Linked DNA regions of Homo sapiens. The protein of the gene in region 2 interacts with the protein of the main gene of each other region in a biochemical or structural test. Each region holds a gene or a part of one and is shown on either strand. Other genes may lie near its edges. The genes, in order: ESR1, SKP2, FOXO1, CDC34, TLE5, PDCD4 and ELF4.

Region 1 (4,067 bases), on a different chromosome or scaffold from region 2:
ACAGTTCTGGAGGCTAGAAGTCTGAAATCAAGGCCATACTCTCTCTGAGGGGGAGAGTCCACTCTTGCCCCTTCTAGTTTCCGATGTTAGCCAGTAAACCTTGGCATTTCTCAGCTTGCAGACCCAGCACTCCAGTCACATGACCGTCCTCTTCCTGTGTCTCTTCATATCATCTTCTTCTGTGCATGTCTGTTTCTATGTCTAAATTTCCCCTTTCATTAGAATGCCAGTCCTTATTGGATTAGGGCTTGTGCTAATGACTTCACTTGAAGTTGATTACCTATATAAAGGCACTATTTCCAAAGAAGGTCAGATTCTGAGATACTGGGGGTTAGGACTTTAACATGTCTTTTTGAGGAGAGACAACTCAGCCCATAACACACTTCAATCATAATCTATCTATTACTTAAAACACACATTCTCCATGCCAAATCCCCCTGGAAGTAGCAAAGCCACAGGCCAACATTCCCCACAGGGTGCCCTGGGGACACCACAAGTCCACTACGTTCAACATAAACACACACTGACCCAGACTCACTGTATTAGTCTGTTTTCACACTGCTCATAAAGACACATCCCAGAGTAGGCAATTTACAAAAGAAAGAGGCTTAATGGACTTACAGTTCCATTGTGGCTGGGGAGGCCTCACAATCATGGCAGAAGGTGGAAGGCACATCTCACATGGTGGCAGACAAGAGAAGAAGAGCTTGTGCAGAAAAACTCCCCTTTTTAACACCATCAGATCTCTTGAGACTTACTCACTATCACAGGAACATGGGAAAGACCTGCTCCCATGATTCAACTACCTGCCATGGGTCTCTCCTACAACAGATGGGAATTCAAGATGAAATTTGGGTGGGGACACAGGCAAACCATATCACTCACTGACACAGAACCTGGAGGAGGGTGGGCAAAATGCCCCAGACATGTTTCTCAAATACTCTCAAGATGAGAAAGGGATTTTTAAAGGTTTAATAGCATCCAGGCCAATAAGCATCTATGAGGCTTCAAAGTTTCATGTGAAAGAAAAATCCAGTCAACAGCAGCTGCTTTCCTTGCGTTTCACCAGAGCTTCCACGGGAGCAGTAGAAAGCTGGGTGGGGTGACTTGGACATGGAACACTTGCAAAAAAGCTGCATATTGCCAGTCCAGAGGGGCTGCCATCATGCCTGCTAGGGCGATTCCAGCCCAATCCTAAGGCTCTTATTATACAGTGGGTGCAAAATCTAAATGGCAAATCTTGTCCTTAAACAGAGGCTTCTGTCATCTCTCCAGGATGTCACCCATATGTCCATGTCATGTTATCTTTCATTACCTTGCCAAAGCATGCTGGACACCACAACAGTTTGAGAGCAGGGTTTACTGGTCCAATGACAGGTTGGGAAGCAGAGTGCTGGGAAGCCCTGCTAAATCTCTGAAATCTACAGGAACCTCCCAGAATTGAGTGTGTTCCTTGTAGATGCTCCCAATTCCCAGACTGAGGTATTACACCTTCTCCGGGAACCCTCATCCCTACCCACTTTAAGTTTCCAATTTCATTCGCTAAGTGAAACTCACTTGCAGATAGAGTTGAAGCCTGCTAAAGTCCTCAGAGCGCATGGCTCCATATTTCTCTAGCTGTTTCTCTGTCCCTTACAAAAGAGAGATTGGAAATGGAAATAGAATCTCACTATGGTGGCTGTCAGGGAGATATCAGAACAGCAGGTAGATTTTGAGGAGAGGAAAAAGGAGAAATGTCACAGCCTTAGAGAGCAGTTCTAGTTTATGGGAAAATTGAGCTGTAACAGGGCTCAGAGACTTCTTAAAATTAAGACTTTCAAAAATCACCTTTCATTTGTTCATTTATTCATTTATTCAAGCACTTCCTGAGCTCAAATCTGCTCATTTTAATGATGAGGATGAGGATGAGAGGCAGAGAAGTGAATTCCTGGATTCCTGGGGAATACAGACACAGAAGAGGCCTTGAGCCCTGGAATAACTCACACAACCATGCATCCTCGAGACAACACAGAAACTTCCAAGAAATCTGAACTTGGGGCTGGTGGGAGACATGTCCAGAAAGAGGAGATTGCCTACCCCTGGGGCCAAAACTGAGCAAGGAGGCAACCTGAAGTAAATGACAGGGAGTCAGGACTGAGGAGGAAGAGGGGCCTTCTAGAGTGTTGATTAGAGGGGGACTCGGCAGGAAAGGGGAAGGAGAAGGTCGTCTAGTTTGCCACTAAAAGAATGAGGAAGTGGTTAAGGTGACATGTTTCACAGGAAGCCAAGCTGCCACTGAACTGCCCCTTTTCCTCTTTTCCTCTTCCTGGGCCAACACTCTGAGTGCACTCTCCCAGATCTGTGCCCAGCAGCAGTTCATGAGGCTGCTACACTTTGGGTTATAAGTATTTAACAGGCAATAAAAAACTCAGGGCTAGATATCTATCCAAATCTTCATAAAATATATAGAACTATAGCACAGACTTGAAGTATAAAATTGCTTTCGAGACATGTAAAATTATGGTGAATTTTGGAAAGGGCTTAACTTTCAATAAATCAAAATGACACTTTGGTGACACAATTCAAGCTTCTGGGGAAAAAAACTCAGATGTATTTCATTAACACTGAAACTAAGAATGAACCACTCAATGATGCAATTGAGTGTGATGCTGAAATCAAAAATACAACCACTCTTGCAGTCATATTTTTTCCTTTTTAACCTTCAGCTCAATGATATTACATTTATTGACTAGTTTCACCATGTGTAAAATAATAGTAAATTAAGATTTAATTATCTACTTTTAAAAAAACTGAATTTCTACCCAGGGATAAGGCTATAAAATTCCTATTAAATATAAACAAATTTCAGAGCAAACAATAAGGAGAAAAGTCTTCTCGATAGATAAATATCAAAAAGTAGATACATAGTATGTGTTATAAAAAAAACATCTTTTGTCAGAGCTGGCTTCATAGGTTTTATCATTCTTGTTGCTACTGTTGTTTTTAAACTGCAAAGAGAAAAAAAATCATTTCTTAAGGTCATCTTTATCCAGGTCTACCAGAAGTACTTTATGGATTGGAACTTGACTCTCACACTTGTATGATGCATTCTATCCCAAAGCTCTTCACATCTTAATTCTGAGTAGAGAAACATATCAAGTCAAAAAATAAGCCCCAGGGGTTAATGAAAAGGAAAATTCAACTTATAATCATCAACATTTGAAAATTCTGACAATATTCTGTTAATTAAAAGAAAGAAGAAAGAAGCACTTCTAGAGCTACTAAGCCCAAAGTATTGACTATTTTTGTTAAAAATTCATCATTCAAAATGAAGTCAATTCATAGTTTTTGTTATATTGATAGGTATTCTGAGGATTATCCAAATGTTTCATGAGGGTTTTTGTATCATATAGCTAATTCTGGGTATTTCTAGAACTGAAATTTTGCTATTCTTCTTACTAATGACATTTACTATTTCCTTCTTTATTTATTTATTTAGAGACAGAGTCTCATTGTTGCCCAGGCCGGAGTGCAGTTGTGGGGTCTCGGCTCACTGCAGTCTCTGCCTCCCAGGTTCAAGCAATTCTCCCACCTCAACATCCCAAGTACCTGGGACTATGGATGTGTGCCACCAAGCCTGGCTAATTTTTGTACTGTTTTGTAGAGACAGGGTTTTGTCATGTTGGCCAGGCTGGTCTTGAACTCCTGACCTCAGGTGATCCACCCGCCTCGGCCTCCCAAAGTGCTGGGATTACAGGCATGAGCCACTGTGCCCGGCTTATTTCCTCTTTTAAAACTTACTATTATTATTGTCATTCTCAAACTATTATCTCATAAACGTTATATTGTCTATATCAGATATTCAGTGTGGGCTATGTTTTTTAAATAACAGATGGTATTTGAATATATAAAAGATATAAATCCTTTTCAAAATGTTGCTTTGTCTATTTTTCTGAAAAGTTTGACAACCATCTGTAGAGCTTTTGCAGAAGACTTTTTTCTTCCCTCACTTTTAGTCTCTTTAAAATCAATGACTATTTTTATTCTGCTTGGTCAGGCAAGTAGGCCTTTGATTTACAACAGCTGTA
Region 2 (4,067 bases):
AAGGTCACACAATCAGTAAGTGGCAGAGGGGGAATTTAAACTCAGGTCTGATTTCAAATCATGCCCTTTCCATCCTAGTGGGTTCTAATATTCTATGCTCTCCTCTGTTGTAAGTACAAATTTTGAAAAGGTGAGAATTAAACCCGGACTTGCTATGGAAACAGAAATCAATCAGGGCTAGGGAGTGAGTGGAGGAGGAGAGAGAAAATAAAACAAAGATGCTATCAATGGGTTCACCACCAAATGGAAGGAGCAAGGTCCTAGAAAACACACATACTCAGCTAGCAGCCAAGTACCCAGTGCTCTTACTCAGCTGACCACAGAATGACACTAATCCTAGGGGCCCCGGGTGGGGGTACCACAGCCTGATATGGGCTGCTGTCCCAGCAGATGGGGCAGAAGTTTGTCTTTAATAGCTGCTCTAGCAATAGGCATCCAGGCTGTGATATGCTTAATCTAATTTTCCTTGCCATATTTAATTCTCAAAACATTAGCCATCTGTTTCCTGAATTCATGATGAAACTGCTGCCTGGTCTGTTTGCAGAGAGCGGAAGGAAAAATCCAGAGGTCTTTTCTCCACTTGTCTCTGCTAAATCCAGCAAGGCTGTAGCTGCATACCAGACCCACATTAAAAGACATAATTACTGAGCCCAAGGTCTCCAGTCTTCAATGACATGGACGGCAGTTAAATATACTTCAGGGCCAGGAAAGGGCAAAAACTGGGCCAAACCAGCAAACCTACTACAATCACCCTCACCTACCACTGTTTCCAATTATTTCTCAGGTGCAAACCCAGTTTCCCACTTCTGTAACCTTATCACATCTCATGCTTCCTGAAATTCTCTGGGAAGAGGGCCTTGTTGGAGAGTTTTCTATGCATTCCATCTTTGCAGTGTAGGTAACTCATCTTACTTGACATATTTATTTCTCAGAATATCACTCCACTCATTTATTTCTCAGAACATCACTCCACTCCACTCAGATTCAAGCTGAAAATCCAAAGTAATGCTAATCATAATCAAACTTTTGACTTAAAAAATTGCTGCTCTTTAAGCATAATCAGATTATACTTGCAGAAATGTATACTGAGGACCTGGTACTCATACTTGTTTTTGTGTGTGTGTGCATTTCTTTCAGGGAGTTGGGGGGTGCTCACCTCAGAATTGCTTTTGCTGGCTTGTTTTAAGTAGCAATACCCCATGCTTTCTTTCTGGGGAACTACAAACAGATTGTGCCATCCCAGATGAGTTCTCCTTCCTCTTCCCACAAACCATAAATAATACATTTGAGGCCATGTTGGCTTTGGGTGTTTTTGTTTTTTTGGCTAAGGTGGGCAAAACTGAAAAAAACAAAACACAGCCAAACTTAACAAGGATTCCCCCATGTACCCCTTCAGTCCCACAACCCTTTATTTCTATGAAAGACTTGCTCAACCCTGAGGTGTAGGGGGTGTAATGAAGAAACAACAGAAGCTGGGATTTGGAAAAAATATGGAACAGTGTATAAGCACTATGAGGGCAGGGTCTCTTGCCTGTTATGTTCAGTATTGTAGTCCCAACCTCTAAAACGGTGCTTGAGAAATATTTGCTTAATGGATGAATGAAAGGAAGCTATGGAACAAAGAAAGATGACTGGGAAGATCCCATAAAGGCTCTTCCAGTGCTGAGTTTAGTAACTGTAGACTGAGACTCACATAGATCATGAAATCAATTTAGTGGGTTTGACTAGCATATATGTACATATAAAGAATGAACTAGAACAGAATAGAAAATATCTTAGTAAGGGGAAATACAGTTTTGTAAAACTGCTGTTTCAGATACATACCCAGGATTGCAATGTAAAATATGTTTCTTACTGGTTAAAAAAAAAAAGTTGGAAAAAATGCTTGCCTAAGGGTATTAAGACACAGATTCCCAGGCTCACTCAGGCCAGGACTCCCCGGATCAGAATCTCAGGAATTTTACACTTTGAACAAGTTCCTGTGGGGATTCTGATATACAGTAAATTTTAGTATCTCCAGTCTGACAACCACTTTAGGGTCTGGAATTTCAAGCATTTAAGAGTCATGGAAGAGCTGATCAACAAATTAGTTCACCTCCATTTTCATGGCTATCACCTGTTTAAAGGGTGGGGTGGGGGACAAGCATTTCATGACCATAAATAAAATGCAATTGTCCCCTTTCCGCCTGTTACTGACCTCATTGCTGGGCCATTTCCTCCCCAACTCTTTCCATACACTCACTCCAAGGGCCAATCAGACCTGTTCTAGTACAGGTTGGCCACAGAGCTTTCATCTTCCCAGATAAACGGATGAAGAGGATTTAGTTGCCAGATGTACGGCTGGACTGGGGCCTGCAGGGAGAAACTGCTTAGCAAAGAACCAACAAAAACTTGCAGCCCAGAACCAGTCATCAGATATCTATGTACAGCAGGTGTGGCCTGTTCTACCCTAATCCTGGCAAAGCTAGTAGCCACCTGTCCTGACAACTGCAGACAAAACTCCTTGGAATGACAATCCGGCTCCACTGGAGGCCCAGGCTTCCAAAGGCCCATTGGGAATCCTCTATACCAGCTGTCCCTCATCCTGCATCACTGATTTCACCCTTCCCCACTCCACACCAATTAAGCAATCTCTGTTGTAAGTCCACGTACATTGGTTTCCCTCTGTGCCTCTCCTTAGGTAATAAACATAAAAGTCACCATTCTTTCTCTCTCCCTTCAGATATATACTTTTGAAGTCAGCTTTAACCATCAAGACACTGATTACACCATTTTCAGAGCCCTCTCTTTCCTCAGAATCTCCTTTCTTGCTGAGTGGAAGGAGGAAGATCTTCCACATCCACCTGAATGGGAATCACAGCTCTTATTTTTTATTGTATTTTCTCCTCAACTTGACTTGCAAATTCCTGGGAAATAGCAAAGACTCCGGAAACTTCTGTCTTGTTCCCACAGTGCCTTGCTTAAAAAAAATTCTTTTTCACTTGTGGAAGGGCATATAGCAATCACACTCTATGTCAAAAGCTATCGGCACTGGACAGGTTAATAAAAATCTGTTCATCTTAGCAGGAAGTATCTTTCGCCATATTTGGTTGGTCAAGCACCAGATTGTTAGGGCTACATTCCAGACACAAAGAAGAGCGGTGAACATTAAATTTTGAAGAAAAAAAATTTTATACTAACAGGGTCAGAGTAACAATATTAAAAACAAAAGATAAAAGTCCACTAGCCTCCAAAATTGGTGTCAGGAATTTTGTTGGCTTATGTATTGTTACGTGTCAGTGGCATGCTAAGGGTTTTACGTCATTCTCATTTAATCTTCACGACGACCTGTGAAGTGGGTATTATTACAGCACTCCATTTCACAGATAAAGGAACTAAGGCAAAGAAAGCTCGAATAACTTTCCAAGGCTGATAAACGCAAGAATGAGGATTCAAACCCAGATCTGACTTCACTACAACCCTCTACTGCTTTTCTAACTAATCCAATTCCTGATGTATATTCCCAGACCATAAATTGGGCAAAGTTCTCTTTCCTAAAGAAAAGGCTGAAAACAAACGTATTTATTTTCTTAATTAAAAGTGGAATGCATCTCGAATCCGCATGTCTTCCTGCGCAGGGGCCATGCTAATCTTCTCTGTATTTCCAGTTTCAGTATATGTGCTGCCAAAGCGAGCAACCAACCAATCAACTAAACAACCAATCTATCAACCCTTCTGCAAAGGAAACCAGATGGGAGAATTTATGAATATACTTAAATTACCTTGGGTCTGCAAGACTTCATCTTTAAATGTTTAATCTGTTTCTTCTTCGCCATCATCCCCCACCTGATTTCAATTTAGACTCTGATCACCTCTTCCACAGATGATTTCAACAGCCTCCTAAATTCTGTTGACTTTAATGTGGGAATATATCCGGAATCTGACCACCCTCACCCCCAACAAGACTTCAAGCTTTGGCCAGGTGTGGTGGCTCATGCCTGTAATCCCAGCACTTTGGGAGGCCAAGGCTGGAGGATCGCCTGAGTCCAGGAGTTTGAGACCAGCCTGGGCAAGATGGTGAGAACGCC
Region 3 (4,067 bases), on a different chromosome or scaffold from region 2:
TTACATAATCTGTTCTATGTATTGCCAAATTCCGTATGTCAGTTTCAAAATCAACTGCAGTACACTGGCTATAAATTGCATTCCATAGGTCTCCATATTTACACAAGTGTGTTCCTAAGTAGTTGCATTTTAAAATTGTTTAATGTAATCATATTTTCATAATTTCTTATTTGGCAAAAACAAAGATATCATTTGATAAATTTGGTCCATAACACAGCATTATTTTCATAATATGTCCTTTCTACCTATACTTTTCAAACTGTTTGTGTATTTCACATGCCTATCACTCTGAGAAATTTTTTTTTTTTTTTGAGACCGAGTCTCTCTCTGTCGCCCAGGCTGGAGTGCAGTGGCACGATCCAGGCTCACTGTAAGCTCCGCCTCCTGGATTCACACCATTCTCCCGCCTCAGCCTCCCGAGTAGCTGTGACTACAGGCACCCGCCACCACACTTGGCTAATTTTTTTCTGTCTTTTTAGTAGAGACGGGATTTCACCGTGTTAGCCAGGATGGTCTCAATCTCCTGACTTCGCACTCAGAGAAACTGATGCTTCCCATATTTTCAGGCCTTTATGAATGCCAGTCCACCATCCCAAAAATATATCTTGAAAATAAGATGAACTAATGGACAGAAAGATGTGCATTTACACAGATATATGATCAAGCAAGCATAATGAAATGTCATTAGTAGAAAAGGTAGTAGAAATTCTTCCAATTTTGCTGAATGCTTGAAAATTTTCATAGCGAAATCGTAAGGGAACAATCTCCCATCCTTTTTTTTCTTTTTTTTTTTTTTTTGAGATGGGAGTCTTGCTGTGTCGCCCAGGCTGGACTACAGTGGCGTGATCTCGGCTAACCGCAACCTCCACCCCTCCAACCCCCTGCCCCAAGTTCAAGCAATTCTCCTGCCTCAGCCTCACAAGTAGCTGGGACTACAGATGCATGCCACCACACTCACTTAATCTCTTCTATTTTTAGCAGTGACAGGGTGTTGCCATGTTGGCCAAGCTGGTTTCTAACTCCTGACCTCAAATGATCTGCCCACCTTGGCCTCCCAAAGTGCTGGGATTACAGGCATGACCCACTGTGCCAGGCCCAATCTCCCATTTTCAAAGCCTGGTTCAACGGCCAATACAGAACTTCATTTTTCTCTAAGACACTTAACTCTTCCCACTGTATATCATAGTTACTTACACATTGCATCTAGTCTTCCTACTGGATCTATGTTTTGAGTCATTGCTACCACTCAAAAACACCTAGCACATCTTGTACACAGTAATTATTCAACAAATAAATGGAAAAAAAAGGACTCTGACAATCTGTTGAAAACAAAATAATCACTGTTCTTTAGTTATACTACTTCTTAAATTATTCTCACATGATACAGACTGTGATATTCTCAACACACAGGAAGCTGAAATATAAAAGACCCATGTATCAAGAAAGAATTTTTTTCCTAACAACATATTTACAATGTAACTGAGAAGCCAAGACATACAGACATTAAAGTTAAATTATATATAATACACAGCAGCATGAATTAAAAGATTACCAGATATTCACTCAGAGGACAAAAATTCCTCTGGGTAGGAGCCAAGATTGGAAGTTGGTGAACTGACTTGAACCTTGCACACTGAGCAAGATCTGCTGAATTTCAGGGCTCAAGATGATCTAAGCTCTGGGGACAGGAGCGTCTAGGCCTGAAATACTAAAAGCTAAACGAGGGGAATGGTTAGCGGGTAGGAACGGAAAGTCTCAACAGACCCTGAGAAAGAAGAGTTAACAGACTTGGGAACACTAAACACCAGGAGAGTGCTCAAGAAGACACCAAGGTTTGAAAACTAGGGAAAGAACTAACTAGACCATTAACCCAACTGGGGACCTTGAAATGAGCCATCTGAGGGCAGGGGGAAATACAGTATGTTCAGTTTTAGACATGCTGGATTTGAGATAAAAGTGGGACCTCCAGAGCCTTTAGGTAACTGGATACACAAGGCAACAGAGAGTAAGTTACCTAAGAAAATACCAGAGAAAAAGTCCACAACTAGTCCTGAGGTATACTTATGAATGAGGATAGGAGAAGGAAAAATAAGCGAACCAACTGGAGAAGCCAGATGGCAGGAGGACCATTGTAATGGAATCCAAGATAAGAAACGATTTCTCAAAGCAAAGCTAAGAAAAGGAAGACGTGGCCGGGCGCAGTGGCTTACGCCTGTAATCCTAGCACTTTGGGAGGCCGAGGCGGGTGGATCACAAGGTCAGGAGATGGAGACCATCCTGGCTAACACGGTGAAATCCCGTCTCTACTAAAAATACAAAAAAAAATTAGCCGGGCGTGGTGGTGGGCGCCTGTAGTCTCAGCTACTCAGGAGGCTGAGGCAGGAGAATAGCGTGAACCCGGGAGGCGGAGCTTGCAGTGAGCCAAGATTGCACCACTGCACTCCAGCCTGGATGACTGAGCAAGACTCCATCTCAAAAAAGAAAAAGAAAAGAAAAGGAAGACTTAGGCTGGGCCCAGTGGCTCACGCCTGTAATCCCAGCACTTTAGGTGGGCAGATCACGAGGTTAGGAGTTCGAGACCAGCCTGACCAACATGGTGAAACCCTGTCTCTACTAAAAATACAAAAATTATCCAGGTGTGGTGGCATGTGCCTGTAATCCCAGCTACTCGGGAGGCTGAGGCAGGAGAATCACCTGAACCTGGGAGGCAGAGGTTGCAGGGGGCTGAGATCACGCCACTGCACTCCAGCCTGGGTGACAGAGCAAGACTCCGTCTCAAAAAAAAAAAAAAAAAGAAAAGAAAAGAAAAGGAAGACTTAGACACACACACGCCCAACTCTCATAAAGAGTGTAGCTTCAGGGATCATCAGAACAAAAACCAGAATTGGGGGCTACACAGGCTAATTCCCTAAACAGCTCTCCCTTGATTTTTTTTTTTTCCTGTAATGAATATGGCTTGAAATAAAGGACACATTTTGAACTTATGTCCTTATTAAAGTAATAAGTGAAGGTAAAAATTCACTAAATTGTATGATGAGGAGCTGCAGATTTACCTTTTTAGTAGTATTTGACTTAATATCAAAACTAACTTGCTTTTTTGTTTTCCTTTTTAGTTTTTATCAAAACTATACAAAAATGGATGAAAGAAAAAAAAAGTAGCCCAAATGCCTGCCAAGTAGCAAGAATAAGTCAACCCTAGATTCAACTATTGGCGGTGCTTAACCTACAAGTTGATAAACCACAGGGAGAAGACGGAATAGAGTAAACTGGGATGCTAATGAATAAAGCAAGTTTTTAAAAAGGCTGAACCATATAAAATAGCCAACGTACAAAAATGTGTTTTTCATGTTTCCTATGTTCCTTAGAAGACTACAAATAACAAGTAGTAATACCTACAAAAGAATTTCTGTGCCACTGACTTGATTTTTGTTCATCCTCATCAGCAACTGGCAAAGAGGAAGATGTCTTCCACACTCTAAGTATTTGTACACAGCATATCCCTTAGGCATCAAAATACATACTTTTTCAAGTACATGTGGTCTTCTGTTTCACAGCTGAGGAACACCACCAGAAGCATCAGAATTCTTTATGTACCAAGAAAAGGTGCTTGGTTATATGACCCCAGGGAGATCCTGGGGGGGCTGGGCAAGTCTCTGCAAGTTGTTGCTACAAAGGCAAAGGCAAATCTTGAACTGCAGGGAAGCAGACCAACTCCCACACAATTGAAAATTCTGCCTTCCCCAATCACTATGTGGTATTTACACTGCCTTTCCAAGAGGATCCCCAAAAAGCCCCAAAGCTACAGCACATATAGGCCAAAAAAATGGCTGGGTAAATTCCCATGATGCCAGGGAACTGGGTAGTTTCCAAGGGCAGAGTGTTCCAGAAAAATGCAAATCATTCAGGCTTCCCCAGAGAAATTCCAGCCAAATACAGCTGCTATCTTAGAAAGCCTAACACAAAACTGCAGTTTAGATGCTTGGATGAAGGGGCTAGAAGCACAAGGACAGGCAACATGTTTACAGTCTGCAAGGCATTCTAACTTGCCACTGAATATTCTTCCCCCT
Region 4 (4,067 bases), on a different chromosome or scaffold from region 2:
GTCAGGAAACGGCCCCCCGCCCACGTTCCCAGCAGCGCCCCCGTGGCTCCTCCGGGGTGCGGCCAGTCCGGAAGCTGGGGGACCCCGGTAGAAGTCGGGCTCAGCTCCCCTCCCGAGGGGACAGGTGGGCCGGCCGCTCCCACCCTGGGCCCGTCCACCGAGCCCCGAGTGACGTGAGTGGCGGTGGGGCAGCCCCTCTTCTCTGAAGCACGTGAAAACCCAGAACAGACATGGGGAGGGAGAAAAAGCCAAAACGAAACAACCAGAGGAGACGGGGACCAGCACAAAACCTCCGTGAGGTAGTCTGTCGTCTAAGGAGCCACGGGTCCGGCCCTAGTGAGGTAAACTCGGCAAGTTTATTCTGGTGGTGTCAGGACTCCTCCGTGCCAGAGTCATCCTCATCGTCCCCGAAGCAGCTGTCGGCCTCCTCCTCCACCTCGCCGTCCTCGTAGTAGTCGTCGTAGAAGAGGTCTGAGCCCTCGTCGGGCGCCGGCGCCTTGGTCTTCACGCAGTACTCGGCCAGCGTGGTGGGCACCTTCACGCCGTCACGCTCCGCGTCCACCTTGGTCCCCAGGACCTGCTTCCTGGGGGGACAGGGTGGGTGAGGGCGCCACCCACGTGCCTGGACTCGGCCCCTGCCCGGCCCCCCTCCCCCAGGTCCGACGCTCACCCCAACGCTCAGGTTTCTCTTAAAACGGCGTGTGGCGACCACTTAGGACAAAGCCCTGTGCGTGAGGAACTCCAGGGGGAGAAATGACAGAGGAGGGGGCTCGGGAAGGGCAGGAGGTGCGGGTGGGAGGCTGGACGGGCGCAGTGCAGTCACACCCGCCTGCCCCGCCCCGAAGCACAACCCAAGGGACCCATCAGGAGCTGGGAGAAAATAACGATGCCGGCAACAGGGAGGGCCCATGCTGCCCCACTGGGGGGCAAAAGCCTTCCTCAGCGCAGGAGCAAAGGAAGCAGCTGGGAGGGCCCAAGGACAGGAGGCAGGACCATCCCTGGAGACGGGAACCAGCACAGGTGAGATGGGAAACGCAAAAACGGCCTGAGCCTCTCCGTGGCCTCAGCAGGATTCTAAACCCGGGGGCCTGGCCACCCCGGCCTCCGGATTCTAAACCGGGGGGCCTGGCCATCCCAGCCTCTGGATTCTAAACCCGGGGGCCTGGCCATCCCAGCCTCCGGATTCTAAACCCGGGGGCCTGGCCACCCCGGCCTCCGGATTCTAAACGTGGGGGGCCTGGCCACCCCGGCCTCCGGATTCTAAACCCGGGGGGCCTGGCCACCCCGGCCTCCGGATTCTAAACCCGGGGGGCCTGGCCACCCCGGCCTCCGGATTCTAAACCCGGGGGGCCTGGCCACCCCGGCCTCCGGATTCTAAACCCGGGGGGCCTGGCCACCCCGGCCTCCGGATTCTAAACCCGGGGGGCCTGGCCACCCCGGCCTCCGGATTCTAAACCCGGGGGGCCTGGCCACCCCGGCCTCCGGATTCTAAACCCGGGGGGCCTGGCCACCCCGGCCTCCGGATTCTAAACCCGGGGGGCCTGGCCACCCCGGCCTCCGGATTCTAAACCCGGGGGGCCTGGCCACCCCGGCCTCCGGATTCTAAACCCGGGGGGCCTGGCCACCCCGGCCTCCGGATTCTAAACCGGGGGGCCTGGCCACCCCGGCCTCCGGATTCTAAACCCGGGGGGCCTGGCCACCCCGGCCTCCGGATTCTAAACCCGGGGGGCCTGGCCACCCCGGCCTCCGGATTCTAAACCCGGGGGGCCTGGCCACCCCGGCCTCCGGATTCTAAACGTGGGGGGCCTGGCCACCCCGGCCTCCGGATTCTAAACCTGGGGGGCCTGGCCACCCCGGCCTCCGGATTCTAAACGTGGGGGGCCTGGCCACCCCGGCCTCCGGATTCTAAACCTGGGGGCCTGGCCACCCCGGCCTCCGGATTCTAAACCTGGGGGGCCTGGCCATCCCAGCCTCTGGCAGGAAGGGAGGACAAGTTAGCTCAAACTTCCTGGAGGGCACCGTGTACACCCGGCCCTATGAGGGGCTGCACCGCGCACACCAGGACCTACGAGGAACCTGCCCCCGGCTCCACCTCCAGGACACGCGTCAAGAATGTCCCCCCAGGACTGGAAGCAAAGGGGCTTCCGGGGGTGGCACAGCAGGGCCAGGCGGCACGCTGACCCCATTTGACAGAAAACAGGAACGAGGCTGCAGCCGCAGGCAATGGGCTCGAGCCCCTATCACCGACCAGGCACGGCTCTGGGCTCTGGGGCTGGCTGCTACCAGGGTGTGCGGGTCCCACAGTGCCCGCATGGGAGGGCACCAGGGAGCAGACAGACAGCCCCAAGCCCAGCCCACAAGCCCAGTGCTTTTTATGGGGATGCATGACGCGTGGAGGGCAGGCGTCTGGCCTCAGGGACGTCCCTGGGTGGCGGGACCCAGCGGACGCCAAGCTTTGCTTTCCAAGCTCTCCGATGGGCTGGGGGGGTGACTGACAGTGCCCCGGGGACGGCACTGCACGGGTGGCAGCAGTGGGGAGACGCAGGGGAGGGCCAGGGTGGACGGGCTGGGGGGGTGACGGTGCCCCGGGGACGGCACCGCAGAGGTGGCGGCTGTGGGGAGACGCAGGGGAGGGCCAGGGTGGGAACTGACCTGCACCGTGGAGGTGCCGCCGGCACACCGCCAGCATGAGCTGGAGGACGGTCTGGAGGTCCTGTTCAGCAAGACCAACATCCCTGACCAAGCCGGGCTCCACGGCAGCCTGCCCGACACAGCTCAGCGGGACTTGGGCTGCCACGAGGCCAACACGCACACAGATGAAAAAACAGGCAGAAACGGCGACCACAGCAGAGTCCACATGGCACATGTGTGTTGGCCCACAGGGAGTTTTGAGGGATAAAAATAGTGTGGCTTTTATTTCTGTGCTGGGATCTCAAGGAGGTGGTGCCTCAGGGAGGTGGCCGGGAAGAACCGGGCCAAGGAGCCAGCCACCTGGGCCAGGTGACACGACCGGACCGGGGCCACCGAGGACATCTGCACCAGAGGGACGGCCAGGGCAGCTACCCTGTGACCTCCAGAGGCCAGCAGGTGCTTGCAGGCCACTTCCCAGGAGGCCGCACGGGGCCCGCCCACCATGGCTGCTCAGAGCCGAGACCGCCCAGCACCAGGATGCTGCCCCGAGATGACCCCACGACACCAGGTACCAGCGAGTGCAGGATGGAAGGTGCCCTGGATGCTCCTGGGTCCTGGGGCGAGGAAGACACATGCATTATGTGTGCAATATTTTAAAAGTTGTTTTTAAGATTCTGTTTATACAAAATACCAACAAAAATAGGTGAGGCCTCTGTGAGGAAATCTATGCAATATCACTCTGAGAAAAAAAAAAAATGGATAGGAAGGGCCTCTATGTAACAGGAAGAGCAGGAACCATTAAGGCCGTCAACCCGTAAAGAAAGCCTTGTCTTTGTACACAGACACGCACGTGTTTACACATTCATGTGAACACAGGCACCCAAGAGAAGGGGCTGTGGGGCTCAGCTCTGGGGCATGAGGGCGATGGGAGGAGAGGGAGAGCCGTGGGTCACCACACACAGCCACGCAAGCTAAGTGGACTGCAGGTACAGAAGGCGCCGGTAGGCGACTGCACAGCTGTACCCAGAGCTCACCAGGCCAAGAGCCTGCAGGGACGCACTCCAGACATGAGTAAGGCCAACACCCCTGACTAACAGTCAGTCACTGGGCACACACAGCACGACCCCATTTTTTCATTAAAGCACAGACACATGTTCCCTAACAGTCAGTCACTGGGCACACACAGCACGACCCCATTTCTTCATTAAGGCACAGACACATGTTCCCTAACAGTCAGTCACTGGGCACACACAGCACGACCCCATTTCTTCATTAAAGCACAGACATGCGTTAAACTGAAAAGCCTGGAAGAATCTATGAAAACACTAACCACCAGGCCAGGTGCAGTGGCTCACGCCTGTCATCCCAGCACTTTGGGAGGCCGAGGCGGGTGGATCACCTGAGGTCAGGAGTTTGAGACCAGCCTGGCTAAGATG
Region 5 (4,853 bases), on a different chromosome or scaffold from region 2:
GCATTCATTCAAGGGAGCAGGCTGCCTAGTGGATGACGATGATGAAGAGACTGTGTTTCGCACCTGCCAAAGGGGGACCTTAATGTCATAGCCTTATTTCAGTAGCCTCTTTGGGACCTGTTCTCTGCGTGGCAGAGAGAGGGATCCTTTAATAACCGCCACCAGGTCCCATCCCTCCTCTTCCCACGGCTCTCCAGGATTCCCACCTCACTCAGAGCAAAAGCCCAAGTCCAGGGCCAGGCGCAGTGGCTCACACCTGTAATCCCTGCACTCTGGGAGGTGGAGGCGGGAGGATCACCTGATGTCAGGATTTCAAGACCAGTCTGGCCAATATGGTGAAACCTGTCTCTACTAAATATACAAAAATTAGCCAGGCGTGGTGATGCGCACCTGTAATCCCAGCTACTCAGGAGGCAGAGGCAGGAGAATCACTTGAATCCGGGTGGCAGAGGCTGCAGTCAGCCAACATCACATCACTGCACTCCAGCCTGGGCAACAGAGTGAGACTCCATCTCAAAAACAAACAAACAGCTGATCACGGTGGCTCACGCCTGTAATCCCAGCACTTTGGGAGGCCGAGGCGGGCAGATCATCTGAGGTCGGGAGTTCAAGACCAGCCTGACCAACATGGAGAAACCCCGTCTCTACTAAAACTCCAAAATTAGCGGGGCGTGGTGGCACGTGCCTGTAATCCAGCTACTCGGGAGGCTGAGGCAGGAATCACTTGAACCCAGGATGCGGTGAGCTGAGATTGTGCCATTGTACTCCAGCCTGGGCAACAAGAGCGAAACTCCATCTCAAAAAACAAACCAACCAACCACCAGGTCCCGTCCCTCCTCCTCCCACAGCCTTCCAGGGCTCCTACCTCACTCAGAGCAAAATCCCAAGTCCTCCCCAAGACCCACAAGTCCTTGCTGGACTGGCCTGCTTCACCAGCTACAGAGTTAGCAGGGCCCAGTGCAAAAGAAAACTCAAAGGCCCCTTGTTCAAAAATGATTAGAAATCTCAAAATGCAGCAGTAAATATTAACCCAAGCACAAGCCCTGCTGTGGGGTGGGGGGGCCCTGGACAAAAGCACGAAGCCCCCGGCCCTGCCTCCCTCCGGCCTTCCTGACCTCCCCCCGGGCACTCTGCTGCCAGGCACAGTCCTGCCCCAGGGCCTTTGCACCTGTTGGTCCTGCCTCTGACTACCTCTGTACCCCATCCCCCTGTTCTCCCTCCTTCTTCAGGTCGCTTTAGGGGTGGAGGAAGCCGTCTCTGATCCTCCCTCCCACCTCTTTAACTTTGCACCTTCCTACCCTGCCATTCTCCCGGCTGGTTTTTCTGCAGAACTGTCCCCACCATCTGACCTGCCAGGAATTCAGCTTGTGAATTTGTCTCTGTCTGTCTCCAGGCACCACCACCAGGGCAGGGACCCACCCCCGCCCCGCCCCACCCCAGGGCCCTGGAGCAGCGGGGCCTGGCACACAGTAGGCGTTCTATAAATGTGTCACAAGAATGGCTTCCCTCAGGAAGGCGGCATTACCGCTGCCTTTCTGCAGAAAAGGAAACTAAGGCTCAGCAAGAACCACCGCCCAGCCAGAGCCAAGGTCACAGAGCACGTCCGTGGCACGCGTCCAGGTCGTGCCACAGCAGGGCCGGCGGCTTCGACGCGGGCAGCCGGGTCCCTTTTCTTTGACAGATGGGGAAACCGAGGCCCGGCCGGCTGCCGGGTAGGAGAGGGTGGCGGGGGCCGCTGCCCGGGGCGGGGGCGGGCCGGGCCCAAGGTCACCGCGGCGGGCGGGCCACGGGGAGGCGGGCCGGCGTGGGGATCCGCAGGCCTCCCCGGGCGCGCGCGTCCCCCCCCTCGGCGGCGCGCACGGGGCACGGGCGGCGGCAGGTGGAGCCGAAGCCTCCGCAGCAGCCGAGCCGCGGCCACTGCCGGCGTCGCCGCCATTAGACAATAGCGGTGGGGCCGGGGAGCGGGGAGGCGGGCGGCGGGGAGGGGCGGGGAGGGGCGCCGGGCGCGCAGGAAGCGGGGCCCGGGGCGCGCCGGGGCCGGGCGCGCGGGGAGGGGGCGCAGGAAGCGGGCGAGGCCGGGCGCGGGAGGCGGCGGCGGCCCCGGGAGCTGCCGATCGGCGCCGGGACAAAGGCGCGGCCGCCCGGCGCCCCCAGCAGCCCGAGCCGGGGCGCACAGCCGGGGCGCAGCCCGCGCCCCCCGCCGCGATTGACATGATGTTTCCACAAAGCAGGCATTCGGTAAGCGGGGCCCGTCCGGCCGGCGCCCCCACCCCGGATCCGGGCCCTACGCCCCCGACCCCCGGCTCCCGGCCCCGCGCCCCCCAACCCCCAGGCCCGGTGCCTCCGGCCCGGCGCCCCCCCCAACTCCCCGGCCCTGTCTTCCCTCTCCAGCTCCCAGCCCGGCGCGACCCCCCTCCCCTCCTGCCGCCGGCCCCCGGACACCCCCCCTCCAGTTCCCGATCCACCCCAGCTTCCGGGCCCCGAGCCCCCCCGCCGCAGCTCCCGGCTTGGCGCCCCCCCCCCCCAACCCGCCGGGACAGTCAGGGCCTCGGACGGCCTTGGCCTCGGGCCTGGGGCGCTCCGGAAGCCCCGCGAGGCACCTCTAGCCCGGGGATCCTTTGGGGGCCTGTGGTGGGGGGGGTGATCCGAGGCGCACCCCTCCCGGAAGAGCGTGTCCCCGAGGAAGGGCGCTGGGAATCTGGGGTTGGGCCCCCCCGGAAGATTTCGAGCACCGAGAGAGAGACCCCTCCCCCAAGAGGACTTTGCAGGGAGGAATCGCTGCCCCCCAACTTGGGGAGGGGGCTCCCTAGGGCGCGTTTCTACCCCCCTCGGATGTGCACTCCCTCCCGGCGCTTTGGAGGGCGGTAGAGGGCGCACCCTGCCCCCCATCTAGGGCGGGCCTTAAAACGCACCCCCACTGCCTGGGGGTGGCGGGGGACGGGGCGGCTCCGGGCGCACCCACCCGCTCGGCTTCCCCCGGGAGAGGCGGGGGGCAGGAAGCGCGGGTGGGGTCGCGCCAGGGGCCGTAAACACGGGCCCAGGAAGTGGGGCAGGAGGGGGGGCGCCGCAGCTGCGCGGCCGCTCCCTCCTAGCCGGCCCTTGAGGGGGGTCCAGCCCACGCCTGGGCCTGACCCGGGCCGCCCCATCCCTACAGGGCTCCTCGCACCTACCCCAGCAACTCAAATTCACCACCTCGGACTCCTGCGACCGCATCAAAGACGAATTTCAGCTACTGCAAGCTCAGTACCACAGGTGAGCTGGGGGACTGGGGGTCCCTGCGTCCCGAGAATGTGAGTCCCCCCATTTCTTCTGCGCAGATGGCAAGGCTGAGGCCTGGAGATTGGGAAAATAATATATGCTAGACTCTGACCTAATCACTTGACAAATACTGAATTCATTTATTTTAAACAGCCCCATTTTGTAGAGGAGAAAACCGAGGCACAAAAATAGTTAAATAATTTGCCCAAAGATTCAGCTGTGTGGCTTCAGAGCCCCTCCCTCCTCCCCAATACCCCCAAGTCCCCCATTGGATAAAAGACCTTCCAACAATTGGAGTTACGGCACGGACTCGCCATCCCTCAACCCCCAAAACAGAAACATTCTGCAGCCTGGTCATCTCTCTCTTTGCCCAGTTTTGGAGAAAGGGTTCCCAGCACCCGTCAGATTCTCCAAGGTGCTGCTTCTTTCAGAAATCTGGCGTTTCTGAAGAGCTTGCCACGCTGCGGTATCTAAGGGGAAGGAACTATTTAGTCCTCTTACACTTAAAGAAACTTAAGCCCAGGCCAGGCGTGGTGGCTCATGCCTGTAATCCCAGCACTTTGGGAGGCCGAGGAAGGTGGATCACTTGAGGTCAGGAGTTCGAGACCAGCCTGGCCAACATGGTGAAACCCCGTCTCTACCAAAAATACATAGTTAGCTGGGTGTGGTGGCGGGCGCCTGTAATCCCAGCTACTCGGGTGGCTGAGGCAGGAAACTTGCTTGAACCCGTGAGGCGGAGGTTGCAGTGAGCAGAGATGGAGCCACTGCTCTCCAGCCTGGGTAACAGGGAGACTCTGTCTCAAAAAAAAAAAAAAAAAAAAAAAAGAAAGAAAAAAAGAAACTTAAGCCCAGAGATGTTATGATGTTATTTCCTCGGGGGTGTCCATAGCATTGAGGAAGTGGCAAGGCTGAGGTTTGCACCAGGTCTCTCTCCTGGTTTAAGGATATAGGTTCTCGCCTGCCCTGCTCTGGAGGGGCACGCCGGGCCTGGGAATCTGGAGAAAGTCAGGCTATGCTCAAACCCCCGTTTGGCCTTGGGGCCCTCTCTAAACTGAAGCGTGCCCACCCCAGAAGTGTTCCTGGAAGGATCCTGGATTTCCTCCAAGTAGAAAGGGGAATCTCGATTTTGTTGTTGCTGCTGCAAATATCCCACCTTTTTGGGTACTCCCTGTGTGCTCAAGACCGTTCGTGCCTCCTCGTGCTTCATCCTTCCTGTCGTCCGACTGTCGTACCCATTCTCAAGCTGGGCAAACTGAGACACTGACAGTCGAAGGTGCTGGAGTCAGCTTTCCATGCAGGCCCCAGAAGCTTTTGTGCGGGTTCCTCGATATGAAGGGTTGGATACCGCCTGGTGAGCCCCGGGGCTGACCTGATTCCACAGGGAAGGGATCAGATGGCGGTCACAGTGCTGTGTGACCTCTGCTAAGCCGGAAGCCCTCTCTGAGCTTTGGGGTCTCCATCCGCTGGGCCTGGGCTTCCTGCTGTCCAACGAGGGACCCTACCATATCAGAGGCACACACCGGATGTTCGAGGCGTAACAGCCCCTGGGTGGCCAGACCATCCTATTTTTCAAGAAAGGCCAGAAATGCAGGCTT
Region 6 (4,067 bases), on a different chromosome or scaffold from region 2:
TGGTCCAGAAGACACAGGAGTCAGAACTATAATAAAATGTCTTAAACTGTCCCTTGGAGTATTCAATTTAAATACATCTATTTCCCATAATCGAGTTTTCTTTTCTTCAACAATTTTAACATCCTTTCAAGTATGTTTGTGTCTCTGCAGCAGTAAACATTCTCTCAGTATAATTTATATATTTGACCTTATCATTTTTAACCCATGTTTGTATTAATTGCTTTATATTTTGTTACTCATACTCACCTAACTGTTGGAGTTCCATAACCCCTATTGAGCTGACTTTAAGAAAACCAAAATTAAAATGATAAGCTGAGTACAGAATGTGATTGACTTCAAAATTGTTTCCTACTGTGTACTAATTCCCTCTTTCTGAATTCTGATATCTCAATAGTAACCACTCCAATTGTATATGACCACAGCACCAGAAAATCACATTTTCAATTACTGGTGTCCAATGAGTGGCATAATTAGAATAACATTACCACACTTTCATGTATTACATACCTAGTATGTGCTTCACAGACTTAACACACATATACAATATCTCACTAAATCCTAATTATAAATCTATACAGAGGGTATTTATATCCCAATTTTATACATGAAAAAACTGAAGGTCAGAATAACCTACTTCCTCCAAGTAAAAGAGTAAGAGTGTGACTTGGACTATTTGCTATGTGAAGAATTTACTACAAAGAGGGTCTATCTTAGGCCTATTCAAATATTGAAGAACAAGTCTTTTATTTTAAAGCAGTGCTGGACACAAGCACCAAGAACAGGGTTAGAACTAGGTCTTATTGTAGTTAGGAAACAAAAAGTACACATTTTAAAGCTGTGTTTCTATTTCTAATAGAAATAGAATGCAAGCCATATAAGAAATTTTAAATTTTCCAGTAGCCACATTAAAAAGTAAAAACAGGTGAAATTAATTTAAATATATTTTATTTAATCTAATATAACCATATCATCTCAACATGCAAGCAATATAACAAATTATTGAGATAGTTGACCTTCATCTCAACTCAGAGTAGCCACATTTCAAGTACTCAACAAACACATGTGGCTAAGCACAGTGGTGCACACGCCTGTAATCCAGCTACTGAGGAGGCTGAAGAGGGAGGATCACTTGAGCCCAGGAGTAATAACCACATGTAGCTAGTGGTCACCATACTGGACAGTGCAGAAAAGAAGCAATTACCTATATGTAAAATATATTCTAAACTGTATTACCATCCCCATCTCAATTAAGTAGGTACATATTATCCATTTATAACCCTAAAGCATACTCATACAGCTATTGTATACAGCAGCACAGAAATGATCATTAATTACATAAATTTTTTTCAATTTTTTACCATACTTTAAAAAGATCTGTAAATAAACAATGGTAAAGAAGCTTCAAATTCAACATGTTTGTTCAGATCAAAGAAAACTATGTACATTGTAAACAATAGTGAGTTAAGTCACTGAGGAAAGAAAGATGTAGTATTTAGTTACGAAATACACTTAAAATGACAGAAAATAGCTTTCAATATTAATAAAATTATAAGACAAAGAATTATCCAAAGTATACCAATATGAACTGTTCTCACTATTCAGATATTACACAATTCTAATTAACTTTTTGGGAGATTATTTTTAAAACTATAAATACATTTTAAATTATCTTGAGTTACTCACATTTGGTCATCTATTCCACAAAACTGTTCATTTTTATGATAATAACATGCTATTGAAGCACCATGGAGAATTAGGGAAAATACCCTAGGTAATTTAGAATATAAAAATTATTTGTTAGGAAAGATACCAAAGATACCAGTAAGTTTATATTACAGAAATCACTAACTAGCCCATGTGAAAATAAGCAGGCTCACTATTCTTCTCTATTCTGTACTATATAACAGAGAATAGGAATATGTGGAATGTGAAAGGATAGGCAGAAAAATAGGACATGTAATGAATTTCCATGAAAATAAAAATCACAAACTTGACTTTAAAAATAATATAGCCTGTTTTCTTACAGCATGAATAAAAGAGTATTTAAAGATAGTTTTTCTATCATGTTTTTATAAAATATGGAATGGTCTGAAGCTTCCTCACAACATAGTCAAGCTTCAAGATATTTCAGCCTAGGCAACATAGTGAAATCCTATCTCTACAAAAAATAAAAAATTAGCCTGGTGTGGTGGCACACACCTGTTGTCCCAGCTGCTGAGGAGGCTGAGATAGGGGAGGATCTCTTAAGCCCAGGAAAGTCAAAACTGCAGTGAGCCATGATCACACCACTGCACTCCAGCCTGGGTGACAGAGCAAGATCCTGTCTCAAAACGAAGAAAAAAAGAAAAAAGGATATCCTTACTTACCTGCAGGGTTTACATTCAGTATCTGCTCATTTTCTACATCCATTTTCCCTTAATTTCGCTTGCACTGATTAAACAAATTACCTAATGGAAATCTTCCTTCAGAATCTGTTTTTTTAAAAGAAAAAAAGAAAGCTTCAAGATCTTTTAAACTGATGTAATTAAGCTGAATTAAACTTACTTAAGCACACTGTAAAAACAAACGACAACAACAAAAAACACACAATTCCATTAAATAAAACAGTTCACTTTACTTTCAAAGACAACTTACCCTAATTAACATTTGGTTCCAATCTTTTTGATAAATTTATCAAAGTCAAAAAAAAAAATCCCAGATTTCAGCATGTGCCAAAGCACCCCTTTAATTGGAATTAAAAGATATGTTTGTGATACATGTTTACGTCAAGTTAAAGAAATACACACATCCAAATCTTTTAGGAATACCAAGCCTCAAAATTAATCTGATATACATACATAGGAATATAAATACTGGATAGTTCCCTACCAATGAATTATGAGAACTACTCCAAAATAAAAACAACACAGTTTTAGTTAATAAAGAATATCACATGACTGTGTTATTTTTCACATTACGGCATATCTGAAAGGCAGATATATCTGCCACTCATTACCTAGGTCTCTATAATTACTAGAATAAGACTTTGGGAGAAACTTTTAAAATCAGCTTTTTTGATAATATTATTTATATGAGAAATCCTTTTTTGATAATATTATTTATATGAGAAATCCATTTTTTAAAAATCTGATCATTTCAGAAAGGAGTAAGTACAACGACATAAGCATTTCAGTATTTTAGGCCTCAGTTTCAAAATGGCTTAAAAATTATTAATACTGGAAGGTTTGATGAAATCAGTTACCTTTTAGACAATTAACTTAGTGATACAGATCCAATAATGTTATATGAAAGAAATATCAAAATAGTTTTCAAAAAATATATTACCAGAAAGTGCAACCAAATTAAGATTTCAGAATCTCTCTAGAAGTATTTTTTAAATAGTGGTTTAGAGTACTTAAGTGTATGTTTAAGTCACATAGGTTGGATATAAGTCCTTCTGGTCATTTACAATCAGGTTGCTAGCAGTGTGCTCTTCAGAGATATAAAATGCACAAATTAGTGAAAATGCCTAATAAATTAATTACAGAAAAGCACATTTTTTCCTATATAACTTAACCTACTGTTAGATGTCATTTTAGGATAACAATGATATATACAGAGCCTCCTGGGACTCAAAGGTGAAACTGACTTTTAAATTCCTCATTATGTACTACTATTTGCTAACATAAGTTTATAGCCCTTTTCTTCAGAAAACGGTATTATTTTGTGAAACAAAAACAAATGGACCTTATGTTAAAATTATAGGCTTCTTACTATGGTATAATCCTCAGACTAATATGCTATCATATTGCTTGGGAACTTAAGAAAATGGTGAGATCATTCTCTAATTCTGTTAAGAATAAATTAATATATGTGAATCTTTATAATCACTTTTCACTATAACTCCCGCCAACTTTAGATATGAAAAAAAAATCTTAAAAATATGTAGAGATTCATATAAATATATGAACAAAAATGGTTTGCAAATCTAAACACTCAGCATCCTTCATGGCTGAAAAGGCTACATTCTGTTTTAATTCCATGCATGAAATACATATAGGAAAGGAATAATGTCATATGATACGTGT
Region 7 (4,067 bases), on a different chromosome or scaffold from region 2:
TTCCAAGGGAGGGCGGGGGGCTCATCCCCCCAGCCCCAGACACAGGATACACCTGAAAATGCCTCATGTGGCTTGTACCACGAGGAGAGGAAACATCTGCAGAGCTGTGGGCACAAGCTGGCCCCAATTACAGCTGCCACATTTATAGCCCACTGTTGGTGGTAGGGAAGTTCTAGGCGGCACCCCAGGTAAAGGGCCACCTTGATTTAGTCCTTGGCTCATTTTACGACTCAAAGGGGCCTTAGAGATCATGTAGCCCCATTCCTGTGTTTTCCTGATGAGGAAACTGAGACAGACCCAGAGAGGGGAAGTCATGTGCCCAAGGTCACACAGCAAGTTGGTGCCCGGTACAAATAGGCACCCATTATTGGATCCTGGATGAATACTGGTGAGAGTCAGGACTAGAAATCTCTCAGATTTCAGCTTTATGGCTTGCCTTCCCTCACTGTACCACACCACCCCTTGGGAGAAGGCAATCTGGGGGAACCCTCCTGTGCATCTGCCTGAGGGGTCATTGGGAAGAGCCTGCCTTGGGGGCCCTCTGGGGAGTTAGGAGCCTGGTAGGATGGGCAAGGATCACTTATTTCTTTATTTTATTTATTTATTTATTTAGACAGTCTTGCTCTTGTTGCCCAGGCTGGAGTGCAATAGTGTGATCTCGGCTCATTGCAACCTCTGCCTCCCGGGTTCAAGCGATTCTCCTGCCTCAGCCTCCCAAGTAGCTGGGATTATAGGCATGTGCCACCACGCCAGGCTAATTTTTGTATTTTTAGTAGAGACGAGGTTTTGCCATGTTGGCCAGGCCAGTCTCGAACTCCTGACCTCGTATTCCACCCGCCTCAGCCTCCCAAAGTGCTGGGATTACAGGTGTGAGCCACCACACCCGGCCTGGATCACTTATTTCTAAAAGAGCCACATGCTGCATATCTCAGTCTTCCTGGGAGCTAAGCAAAAGAGCAGAGGGGCCTGAGAAAGGCACCCTGGCCAATATTATTCAGCCTGAAATGGAAATAAATTATTATTATTTTTTTGAGACAGAGGTTCGCTCTTGTCACCCAGGCTGGAGTGCAATGGTGCGATCTCGGCTAACTGCAACCTCTGCCTCCTGGGTTCAAGTGATTCTCCTGCCTCAGCCTCCTGAGTAGCTGGGATTACAGGCTTGCGCCACCACGCCCAGCAAGTTTTTATATTTTTAGTAAAGATGGGGTTTCACCGTGTTGGTCAGGCTGGTCTCGAACTCCTGACCTCAGGTGACCCACCCGCCTCAGCCTCCCAAAGTGCTGGGATTACAGGCGTGAGCCACCGTGCCTGGCCTGAAAATGGAAAGAAATTCTGACACGTGCTACAACATGGATGGACTTTGAGGACATCGTGCTAATTGAAATAAACCCATCACCAAAATACAAAAAGATAAAAGTCATATGTATATCGGTGGGTGTGGTGCATGTATACCTGTGTGCACACATGCCTGAGAAACCAATACATGGATTTCATATTTTTAAATGGAATTATTTTGTTGCCTTGAGTTCAGGCACTGGGGTTCAAACTTACAGATCTGCTTCTCATCCAGGATATCGCTGGGAGACTCCATATTGAGTAAGACTTCCGCGGTTGACATGGTGTGCGAGGTGGCCTCATTGTCATCTGGTCCGGGTTCCATGGTGGGAGGAGAGAAGAAAAGTTCCCTCAGGGCACAAGGCAGGGGGTACAGCTATAATCAGGGCCAGCCCGAAGAAAGGATGGTGGTAAGCATCCTTCGGGCTGACCCTGAAGTGAGTGCTAAGTGAGGGAGAAACAGGGGACCCTGACCAGAGGTACTGAGGGACAGCCAGGAAGGGCCCAGCACCCCTCCTTACCTAACTCTCCACCCCCTCAGCTGGTCTTCACTCCTCATTGTCCCACCCCACTTCCACAGACCATGAATCTACTAAGATGGTTCCCTCCTCTGTGAAGCAGCACAACTTTTTGGCTGGTGGACTTGCCCATTCTGCACGGGGTTACTAGAGGCCATTGTGGGCTGCTGTTCCCTAAAGACACAGCCCCTTTTTCTACCACACCTTCTCTGCCCAGGAAGGGAACAGACCTGTCAGCAAAAAACTGCCTTCCAGGATCTGATCCTGCGTCATGCACAAGGTCCCGTCTGTTATGATGCCATTGTGAACGTCGTCCAACTCCAGTCCCGAGTACAGATGCAGTAAATCAGGGTAGGGTACCTGCTCCACGATCACAGCTGGGAACACAGAGGGGTCTTCCAGCTATGGAGAAGACAGGGATGTGATTCAAGACCCACCCAGCTCTTCCAGCAAACCCTCCCTACCAGAATCTGGCCCTCTGTGCAAGTCCTTATTCTTGGGTTCATCAGGGACTGTCCTTTGTATAGGATGATATAACTCTGGGTCCAGCCTCATTAGGTGATGCTTTGAGTGGGTTCTTGATGAATAGATGGGTTAGCTCTGCACCACCAGCCCTTTAAGCATTTTTTTTTTTTTGAGATAGAGCCTCGCTCTGTCGCCCAGGCTAGAGTGCAGTGGCATGATCTCAGCTCACTGCAACCTCCGCCTCCCGGGTTCAAGCGATTCTCCTACCTCAGCTTCCCCAGTAGTTGGGATTACAGGTGTGTGCCACCATGCCTGGCTAATTTTTATAGTTTTTGTAGAGACAAGGTTTCATCATGTTGGCCAGGCTGGTCTCGAACTCCTGACCTCAGGTGATCCACCTGCCTCAGCCTCCCAAAGTGCTGGGATTACAGGCGTGAGCCACCATGCCCAGCCAAGGGCAAGCTTTTTTTTTTTTTTTTGAGACGGAGTCTCACTCTGTCGCCCAGGCTGGAGGGCAGTGGCGCAATCTTGGCTCACTGCAAACTCCGCCTCCTGGGTTCACGCCATTCTCCTGCCTCAGCCTCCCGAGTAGCTGGGACTACAGGCACCCGCCACCACACCTGTCTAATTTTTTGTATTTTTAGTAGAGATGGAGTTTCACCGTGTTAGCCAGGATGGTCTCGATCTCCTGACCTCGTGATCCACCCACCTCGGCCTCCCAAAGTGCTGGGATTACAGGCGTGAGCCACTGCACCCGGCCAGGCAAGTATTTTTAACTGGTTGTAGTTATGGTTTAACCCGTGGCCAGGTTAGGGCTCAGTCTATGAGGATTAGATTCATTCTAAGGCCATTGGGAATAGACCAGCTGATGGCAAGGGCAAGGGGCTCAACCTATAGTCGGGGGACAAGAGGGATTCAGTCTAGAGTCAGGGCTGGGGACCTAGTTCGCAGCCAGAGTTAGGGGCTCAGACATCTTCGGGCTCCGTCTGTGGCAATGATAGTGGGAATGAAGACAGAACAGAGGCATTATAGAAGTAGAAATGTCAGGACTCAGTCACTGCCTGGATGGGGGAGAGGGGTTCAATTTCCAGCTTCATTCAACAGGGACATGGAGATACTGCTCATGCCAAGGGAGGGCCCAGGAGGAGGAAGAGCAGGCTGTGGACCAAGATAAGGGCTACAATGTCTGGATGTGGTGAGCTTGAGGTACCTTTGGGACATCTGAAATAGAGACGCCTATCAGGGAGTCAAAAATAAGTGTCTAACAGTTCAAAAGGGAGCTGGTGGTCGTTCAATCCCTTGGAGTAGATAAGAAAATTGAGATGAGAATTCAACCCCTAGAGAACAGAAGTGTTTTGAAATTAAGCAAAGCGAAATTAAAAAGCAGTATGACTGCATGTGTTTTTTTTAAAAAAACTCCATATAGAGGCTGCATGTGGTGGCTCATGCCTGTAATGCCAGCACTTTGGGAGGCTGAGGCAGGTGCATCGCTTGAGCCTAGGAGTTCACACACCAGCCTGGGCAACACAGCAAGACCCTATCTCTATTTAAAAAAAAATTAAAAAGAAAAAACCTCTATAAATAAATAAATATGCCAGGATGTTAATCATAGTTTTCTTTTCTTTTCTTTTTCTGAGACAGAGTCTGGCTCTGTCACCCAGGCTGGAGTGCAGTGGCACGATCTTGGCTTACTGCAACCTCCACCTCCCAGGTTCAAGCAATTCTACTGCCTCACCTTCCCGAGTAGCT

Evidence for each region.
Region 1: of the proteins of SKP2 (region 2) and ESR1, one has a biochemical effect on the other in vitro, tested with the Homo sapiens proteins (one study listed by BioGRID).
Region 3: the proteins of SKP2 (region 2) and FOXO1 form a complex in vitro, tested with the Homo sapiens proteins (one study listed by BioGRID).
Region 4: the proteins of SKP2 (region 2) and CDC34 form a complex in vitro, tested with the Homo sapiens proteins (3 studies listed by BioGRID, with this or other methods).
Region 5: the proteins of SKP2 (region 2) and TLE5 form a complex in vitro, tested with the Homo sapiens proteins (one study listed by BioGRID).
Region 6: of the proteins of SKP2 (region 2) and PDCD4, one has a biochemical effect on the other in vitro, tested with the Homo sapiens proteins (one study listed by BioGRID).
Region 7: of the proteins of SKP2 (region 2) and ELF4, one has a biochemical effect on the other in vitro, tested with the Homo sapiens proteins (one study listed by BioGRID).

Annotation. Positions count from the first base shown.
Region 1 is NC_000006.12:151,946,727-151,950,793, reverse strand, and holds part of ESR1 (estrogen receptor), read right to left. Parts: intron 1-4,067.
Region 2 is NC_000005.10:36,154,729-36,158,795, reverse strand, and holds part of SKP2 (S-phase kinase-associated protein 2), read right to left. Parts: intron 1-4,067. UniProt on the Homo sapiens protein: Substrate recognition component of a SCF (SKP1-CUL1-F-box protein) E3 ubiquitin-protein ligase complex which mediates the ubiquitination and subsequent proteasomal degradation of target proteins involved in cell cycle progression, signal transduction and transcription.
Region 3 is NC_000013.11:40,656,538-40,660,604, forward strand, and holds part of FOXO1 (forkhead box protein O1), read right to left. Parts: intron 1-4,067. UniProt on the Homo sapiens protein: Transcription factor that is the main target of insulin signaling and regulates metabolic homeostasis in response to oxidative stress.
Region 4 is NC_000019.10:537,856-541,922, reverse strand, and holds part of CDC34 (ubiquitin-conjugating enzyme E2 R1), read right to left. Parts: intron 3,246-4,067; coding exon of another isoform or gene 2,933-3,245; exon of another isoform or gene 2,887-2,932; intron 585-2,886; coding exon 371-584; 3' UTR 1-370. UniProt on the Homo sapiens protein: E2 ubiquitin-conjugating enzyme that accepts ubiquitin from an E1 ubiquitin-activating protein, and catalyzes its covalent attachment to other proteins by an E3 ubiquitin-protein ligase complex. In vitro catalyzes 'Lys-48'-linked polyubiquitination.
Region 5 is NC_000019.10:3,059,559-3,064,411, reverse strand, and holds the start of TLE5 (TLE family member 5), read left to right. Parts: upstream 1-1,916; 5' UTR 1,917-2,211; coding exon 2,212-2,238; intron 2,239-3,154; coding exon 3,155-3,252; intron 3,253-4,853. UniProt on the Homo sapiens protein: Transcriptional corepressor. Acts as a dominant repressor towards other family members. Inhibits NF-kappa-B-regulated gene expression. May be required for the initiation and maintenance of the differentiated state.
Region 6 is NC_000010.11:110,874,370-110,878,436, reverse strand, and holds part of PDCD4 (programmed cell death protein 4), read right to left. Parts: intron 2,472-4,067; 5' UTR 2,410-2,471; coding exon 2,367-2,409; intron 1,768-2,366; exon of another isoform or gene 1,694-1,767; coding exon of another isoform or gene 1,684-1,693; intron 1-1,683. UniProt on the Homo sapiens protein: Inhibits translation initiation and cap-dependent translation. May excert its function by hindering the interaction between EIF4A1 and EIF4G. Inhibits the helicase activity of EIF4A. Modulates the activation of JUN kinase.
Region 7 is NC_000023.11:130,072,498-130,076,564, forward strand, and holds part of ELF4 (ETS-related transcription factor Elf-4), read right to left. Parts: intron 2,256-4,067; coding exon 2,084-2,255; intron 1,712-2,083; exon of another isoform or gene 1,661-1,711; coding exon of another isoform or gene 1,645-1,660; coding exon 1,552-1,644; intron 1-1,551. UniProt on the Homo sapiens protein: Transcriptional activator that binds to DNA sequences containing the consensus 5'-WGGA-3'. Transactivates promoters of the hematopoietic growth factor genes CSF2, IL3, IL8, and of the bovine lysozyme gene.